Linked DNA regions of Homo sapiens. The protein of the gene in region 1 interacts with the protein of each later gene in a pairwise test. Each region holds a gene or a part of one and is shown in the gene's direction. Other genes may lie near its edges.

Evidence for each region.
Region 2: the proteins of PKIB (region 1) and LY6D interact in a two-hybrid assay, tested with the Homo sapiens proteins (one large-scale study listed by BioGRID and IntAct).

Annotation. Positions count from the first base shown.
Region 1 is NC_000006.12:122,609,104-122,613,204, forward strand, and holds the start of PKIB (cAMP-dependent protein kinase inhibitor beta), read left to right. Parts: upstream 1-1,301; 5' UTR 1,302-1,432; exon of another isoform or gene 1,433-1,532; intron 1,533-4,101. UniProt on the Homo sapiens protein: Extremely potent competitive inhibitor of cAMP-dependent protein kinase activity, this protein interacts with the catalytic subunit of the enzyme after the cAMP-induced dissociation of its regulatory chains.
Region 2 is NC_000008.11:142,784,382-142,787,984, reverse strand, and holds LY6D (lymphocyte antigen 6D precursor), read left to right. Parts: upstream 1-1,445; 5' UTR 1,446-1,468; coding exon 1,469-1,520; intron 1,521-2,297; coding exon 2,298-2,396; intron 2,397-2,528; coding exon 2,529-2,764; 3' UTR 2,765-3,103; downstream 3,104-3,603. UniProt on the Homo sapiens protein: May act as a specification marker at earliest stage specification of lymphocytes between B- and T-cell development. Marks the earliest stage of B-cell specification.

The DNA of each region.
Region 1 (4,101 bases):
TTAGGCGGGTGCAGAAGCTACTGCAGTTTTTGCCAGTACTTTTTTGCAATTACTTTTGCACTAACCTAATACAAAACAAAATGTGCCTACATCACAATTCAGAAAAATCACAGCTTTATTAGCAGAGTATAATTTAAGGAAGTCAATCAATCCTGAAGGCAGAAAGACCTAAGTTCAAAACTGATTTGGAATCTTCTCAGCTATTTAGCCTTGTTCAAAGTATCTAACCTTGCTGAACCTCAGTTTACTATCTGAAAATAGAGAAAATTATTACTATATTGTGGAGGTATGAATATTGAATAATTTAAAGAACTTGATTGTACTACCATTAGCACACACTGAATAAAATATTAGTCTGATTATATTTTCGTATTTCCATATTTAGGCTTTTGCCTAAAAAGGGAATTTGGAAGTGGTCATTGGCAGGTGTCATAGGCTTTGGGTGGCAAGTCAGAGCATAGTATGAATGAGCAAATTAGTAAAGACTAGAGATAAGAGAAGACTTTGAGTACTAATTAAGAGTTTCAGGAGACCAGAGGAGATTTTAAGACTTCAGTGAGAAACCACTTTCTCAGGAAGCAGATAAATTAATTTTATCAGCAGTATCGTCGTCCATGTAATATGGCTTTTAAAAAGCACAGTGAGACCTTAGTAGTAACGACTTTATTTTTCTTAGTGAGAACCTGAAAGTGAAACTTGATATACATTATTTTCTGCTTTTATTGCACAAAAAGTTGTTTCCATTGCATATTGCTTCCTAATCTGTTAAAATAATCTGTTAACAAACTCGAAGACCCAGATTCGGGGCGTAGATAAGCCTGTGTACCTTCCTACCTTCTCCAAACAGCCAACATTAGATCAAAGGGCAACCTTAATGACACCTGGAGCACAAACCCTGCTCAGGGCGCGTACAACCGGAGGGACAGAAAACACGATGCGACGTCGGAAAGCAGGAAGGGAATTGAAATTCCCGCAGTCACGTCACAGAAATCTTAGCAGAACCTCATCATCGCCCAAGGGAACTGGGAGTGGCGGGCGGGGAGGACGCGGGTTGTGTGACGATCACCGATAATTAGTTGGTGGTTAACGCACAAGTAGGATAAAAGAGCTCGCCCCAGGCTGCCAGCAGAAAAAAGCTACCGTGGCACGTGCCCCGGGGAGTGATGCGGTGGCCCGGTTTGCACGGAGAGCGGGACACCGCCTGGGGAGCCGCGCTCGTAGCCTGGGGGCGGGACGCGGCGGCCGCTCCCTCCGCCCCCGAGTAGCTGCCACCGCCTGGCTGCGCCCCAGCCCAGTAGCTCAGACGCGGCCGCATCCCGGTGGACTGTAGAGGCGGCAGCGAGCTAGAGCCCGAGTCGCAGCTCCGGGCCGCAGAGCGCTGGGCGAGCGCGAGCGCCAGGGCACCGGCAGGGCAGGCAGCTGCGCGCGGCTGGTACGTACCTGGTGGAGCGGGCGCGTGAGTGGGTGTCCCTATGCGAGGAGGGAGGAGTGGGACTTGGGAAGTCGGGGGAGACTGACCCAGGGAAGATGTGGTAAGTGCAACTTTCCTATTTTCTGCCCTGCTGGCACAAATATGGGGGGAGTTCGAAGCAGATGCCTCTTTCGCTTGGGCGACCCGATCCATCGTTTAACTCACAAGTCAGGGTACTTAGAGAGTGAAAAGGACGCTCACGCCAACAGGCGTGACGTGGGAGGTCTGTCACCTGCCTTTTGCCCACTCTGCCCTGCAGGTGGCCATTGATGACCTCCTGTCACAAGTCGCTGAGTCCTTCGGCTCTCGCGCCAGCAATGCCAAGTCTTTCCCCTGGGCGGTGCTTACCAAGCCCCGGGTAGTCACGAGCGGCCGCGGGGTTAGCAGAGACCCGAGTACTAACCCGCTCGGCCAGCGTCCGGCTGTGTGGCTTTAGCCAAGTCACCTCACCTCACTGGCCTCCGTCCATTCTTTGGATAAAATATGGAGGTGGGTAGACCGAGTAAACTCAAGGGTCGCCCGTAGCTATTGGATTTTCCCTGCTCCTAGGACCCCGGCAGGCCGCAGGGAGGGACACGAGTGCCAGGTGGTCGCGGGCTGAGGGAGCGGAGGGCCTGTGTTCCGGTTGGTGCTGATGCTAGCCCCTTGGGGAAATTCCTGAAGGTGCATTTCGGAGCCAAATGACCCTGCCTTGCAGCAGGTCCCTTCCAAGGGAGCTGAGAGGGCCAGGTCAGACCGGTCTTCGTAGAGCTCCCCGGGGAACGCAGCCAACGGAACTCGGGTCCTTTAGAAAAGTGCATGCGTGAACTAGGCATGTGGGAAGCACTAAAACAAACAACAAACAAACAACAAAACACCCTGCAGGTGGTAGTGTTATTAGCTGGAGTCTGTGCAGGACTGGAAAGTGGAGATTTGAGGCGAATGACCACTTAAACGTTCATCTAGAAAAAAAATTTTAAAAAAACTCTTTTATCAGTGGTTTGCATACTGAAAGGTATTGAATTAGAAATATTGCGAGTATTGCATTTCTCTTCGTGTACAGATAGATTTCAAAATTCATCTGTCCACTTTATCTCTTCACAAGATGCCTTCCTTCTTACTGACATTGCCACACATTCAAAAAAAATCCTCCTGGGATTTTATATTTAGAAAGCTCAGCATTTGGATTATTAAAATGAGAACTGATGACCATAATGCTCACGGAAAATGGGGTAGGTTATGGATCAAGTTTGGTTAAATCAGCAGTTTATAAACCTTGTTTCCTGTTAGTGTGCCGGGTGCTGGTCAATGCCCCCCTAGTGACACTATCTCAAGAGATCATTTGCTAAAAAGGTGTTTTGGAAGTTCAAAAGATTCGATTTTGAAGGAAAGTATAGCTTTGGAAAGGAAATCTTTTGGAAAACGTTTTTAGTAATGGACTTCTCAATCTTATCTTTACCACAACTTTCTTCAATAAAATATCAAAGACTAATGGACCACATTATGCAGAATATTTTAAAATGTGTCAAATTTCATTTTTGTTAAAGAGTTTTTCCTCCTTTTTAGTCGATTGCAAACATATTGTTTAGATCAATGATAGATCAATTTAATTTTCCTCACAGTTCTTACAATTATTTAAATTCTTACGCAGTTTGCATTACAGCATTTTTTTACAACTTTATTGAGATATAATTTATATATTATAAAGTTCACCCTTTAAGGGTGAATAATATTTAAAAATTATATTTCAGTGAGTTTTAGAAAATTTGTTAATTTTCTAAAAGTTGTAAAACCATTACCATATCTGGTTTTAGAACATTCCAAAATTGTAAAACCATTACCATATCTGGTTTTAGAACAGTTTACTCACTTGGTAAGATTCCTTATGTCCATTATGTCTTTGTTCCCACTCCCATTCCCAGGCAACCATTAATCTACTTTCAGTCTATAGATTTGCCTTTTCTGAACATTTTATATAAATGGAATGATATACTATATGGTCTTTTGCTTATGGCTTCTCTTACTTAGCATAATGTTTTTGGGGTTCAGCTATGTTGTGGCATGTATCAGTATTTCATTTCTTCTTATTGCTGAATAGTTTTCCATTGTATGGATATACCACATTTTGTCAATTTACTAGTGGATGGATATTTGGGTTGTTTCCAATATGGGAATATTATGAATCATGCTGCTGAGAACATTTGCATTCAAGTGTTTGTGAGTACCCGTTTTCATTTCTCTTGGGTAGATGCTTAACAGTGAAATTGGTAGGTTGTATGACAAACTTGTGTCTAACTTTTAAGGAACACTATAGAGTAATTTTTGTAGAAGTTATATATATAAAAATTTAAAAAATTCTGGAAAAATAAATGTTTCTTACTGGATCATATATGATGTTATATGTATATAGAGAGAGGCTTGGGAGAGGAACCATTGCTTCTCTTCAAATTTAGAGCTGAGGTACAGCAAACACTTTTGAAAAAAATGTCGCAATATTTCTCAGAAACGAGATATTTCTTGCCTAATGTTTTTTAATGCTAAATGAGCATGAATCAGGCTTAATCAAGACTAAATTTTCATTAATGTCAATTGAAAATGAGAAAGCATGCAGTTTGAAAATTGTATTTTAAGTGTTGAGACTTAGCCAGCTC
Region 2 (3,603 bases), on another chromosome or scaffold:
GCCTGACTGGCCCCAGTACCCACGGTGCTCCCAAAAGCCTCAGCCCAGCCCAGGACCACCCTCCTCGGAACCGGCCCTGCCCTGCCCTGGGCCTGTTGTTGTCTGTTCATCAGCCACGTGGCAGCGGCGGCAGGAGGCTGGGCCCAGGGCTGACCTCCATCTGTGCCCCGGCTCCCACTCACCTTCAGCCTAGCCAGGGCAGGGGCAAAGCAAGTCTGTGGGCCCCTCCACACCACTCAGGTGGGTGCTGCCCAGCACAGGCGAGCGGCAGAGCGTGCTGGGCTGAGCAGGTGGATGGGGGCCCCAAGAGGTGGGCTCCTGCGCGAGGCGGTGGGTGCTCAGAGACCCCGTCTCCAGGGAAAGAAAGTCCCTCCTGTGAGTATAAAGAGGGTGAAGGCGGGGACTGGCCTCCACTCAACGGGCAGCAGACCAAGAACCTGCTTTGAGGCCCTGGGTGCTGGGGCCCAGCCCCAAAGAGTTCACGATTTTGGGGAGACTGGAGCCGGGACACCTAGAGCAATAGTTACAAAGTGGCCGGGATGGCGCTGCCCCCAACGTAGCAGGAGGGGCCTGGAGAGTGGGGGAAGGAATCCCACGGGGAGGGCTTCTGGGGCCCTGGAGGGCGGGAGGCAGGGCTGGTGGAGACCAGGAGGGCTCAGTCTCTCCCTGCACAACGCAGGGTGGAGTTGCTGCCTCCACAGCCCGGGCCTTCTGCCCACAGGGCTCCCCAGGCAACTTCGAGGGCCGGGTCCTCACAGTCCTCACTCTGTCCAGTGCTCACCTCACTGCTGCCCCAGCTGCCCTCCCTGCCTCGGAGTGGCCTCTGCCTCTGCCTCTGCCTCACACACCCCATCAGCCCACAGCCACCCCGAGCCCTTGCAGCTCAAGGACCTTCTGCATCCCCGGCAGCAACCCTGAGCCCAGAGCCAGGAGAGTAGGACCAGCACCTGCCCTTCCTACCTCCCCTGCCCTGGACACCCACGGGCACCCACAGGGCACCGGGCACAGGCTGCAACTCTATTGAGGGAACTATGGGGGGAATGCAGGGACAAAGACACAGGATGGTGATGGATGGTGGGGGGTGGGGGGCGGGGGGTAGCGGGTGGCAGGTCAGAGACAAAGTGACCCAGGAACGGACGGCAGCGAGAGAACAAGACCCACAGAGACAGAGAAGTGAAAGTGGGAGAGATGGAGGCACAGCAGCAGGAACAGCAGGGCCAGGAGGCCACTGGGCCCCGTTGCGGAGGGCAGACCTCTGCCTGGCGGGGGGCAGCAGGGGCAGCGCCCAGCGACAGCCAGGCTGGTGGGCGTGGGCCAGGCAGGGTGGGGCAGGTGCCCGTCCTGGGCTGACGCTTGCACAGAGCCCTGCAGAATGCCGCTGGCTGGCGGACTGCCCACCCCCGCCCAGCCCGTGCCTATAAGGCCTTGGCAATGCAGGGGCCCGCACTGCTCCCAGACGACATCAGAGATGAGGACAGCATTGCTGCTCCTTGCAGCCCTGGCTGTGGCTACAGGGCCAGGTGAGGGGCTGGGCCAAGGGGACGGGCGGGTGGGCGGCTGTGGCCTGTGTGGTCACCAAATACTAGGAGCCTGGAGCTGACGACATCTAGGCACAGAGAACCCCGACACTGTGGGTGCTAGACTCTTCAAATTTAAAACAACATGGAGCCCGAATCTTAACGAGTGTCAGATTTACAATGTTTCAGAATCTGAGGATCTTAGAACTGACTCCTGGAGTCACGGACCCTGAGAGAGTGGAGCAGGGGGTTGTCTTGAGATGCTTCTCACTGGGAGAGCGGCCATCTAGTCCCTGCCACCAGCCCCTCCCGGTCCCCAGGTCTCCCCCAGCACAGCCCAGGACAGCCCAAAGGCCACCAAGCCCTTCCTGTCATAGGCTCAGAGCAGCCAAGCTGGCTGCCCCCGGGGCCTTAGCTCCGTCAGGCCCTCAGAAACATAGCCATCTCCTCCAGGGACATCCCCTGGGGTGGGGACAAGAGCCAGTGTCCTCTTGGCAGTCGCAGAGCTCCCTGAGACCTTGGAGGAAAGGCTTGCAACACACCCTAGACAGGGGCAGGGCAGGACACCTCTTCCAAGCCGGCCCAGGCTGGAATACATGTCCCCTGAGGCTGCACTCAGGGCACATGCCCTGCCAGGACCCAGAGCCCGGGTTTGGGGGCCTAGGGCAAGGGCAGCAGGGCCTCTGTCCAGGAGGGGTCTCTGCAGGTGGGGGAGCAGGCCCTGCTGAGTCACCAGGAGGCCTCTGTTGGGCCCGCTGAGCCGGACTCCCTCCCCGCCAGCCCTTACCCTGCGCTGCCACGTGTGCACCAGCTCCAGCAACTGCAAGCATTCTGTGGTCTGCCCGGCCAGCTCTCGCTTCTGCAAGACCACGAACACAGGTGGGTAGCATCTGTCCAGGTGTCCCTGGGGCTGGGGGACATCCCTGGCTGTTGTGGGTGTTGGCTGGAAGGTTGTGGGGAGGTGGGGGGCAGAGGTGGCTGCCTGGCCTGACCACACTCACCTGTGCCCAGTGGAGCCTCTGAGGGGGAATCTGGTGAAGAAGGACTGTGCGGAGTCGTGCACACCCAGCTACACCCTGCAAGGCCAGGTCAGCAGCGGCACCAGCTCCACCCAGTGCTGCCAGGAGGACCTGTGCAATGAGAAGCTGCACAACGCTGCACCCACCCGCACCGCCCTCGCCCACAGTGCCCTCAGCCTGGGGCTGGCCCTGAGCCTCCTGGCCGTCATCTTAGCCCCCAGCCTGTGACCTTCCCCCCAGGGAAGGCCCCTCATGCCTTTCCTTCCCTTTCTCTGGGGATTCCACACCTCTCTTCCCCAGCCGCAACGGGGGTGCCAGGAGCCCCAGGCTGAGGGCTTCCCCGAAAGTCTGGGACCAGGTCCAGGTGGGCATGGAATGCTGATGACTTGGAGCAGGCCCCACAGACCCCACAGAGGATGAAGCCACCCCACAGAGGATGCAGCCCCCAGCTGCATGGAAGGTGGAGGACAGAAGCCCTGTGGATCCCCGGATTTCACACTCCTTCTGTTTTGTTGCCGTTTATTTTTGTACTCAAATCTCTACATGGAGATAAATGATTTAAACCAGTGTGGCTGTGGCTGTGCTATTCTGGGACGGAGGAGCTGAGGGGCGGATATCAGGCCACATAGGTACCCTGAGCCTCCAGCACATGTCCCCTGGGGCCAGTCGTGGGGTGATGCCTGAGGTGGCACCGTCCGTCCCCACCCTGGAAGGGGCAGGCTGCTCAGATGCCTCCCACCGCCCCAGAGGTGGAGGGCACTCCTGGGGTGAGGCCTGAGTAGGAGCACAGGGTAAGAGGGCTCGCAGGCCCCTCCCACACATAGCACCTAGGGGAGAAGGAACCCCTCAGCCTTTCACCCCGGGTCATGTCTCTGAGACCGGGGTTCAGGAGCCTCCAGAGAGGCCGGCTTGGGACACCCCAGGCCCAACCCCAGCTTTGGAGCCAAGTAGGCACTGACTACCTACAGCCATCGCCAAGGCAAGTCCAGCTGCCCAGGGAAAGTTCAGCCACCATCCAGGAAAGTCCCATGGACCCTATCTATGGGAACCCAGCAGCCCCTTGGCCA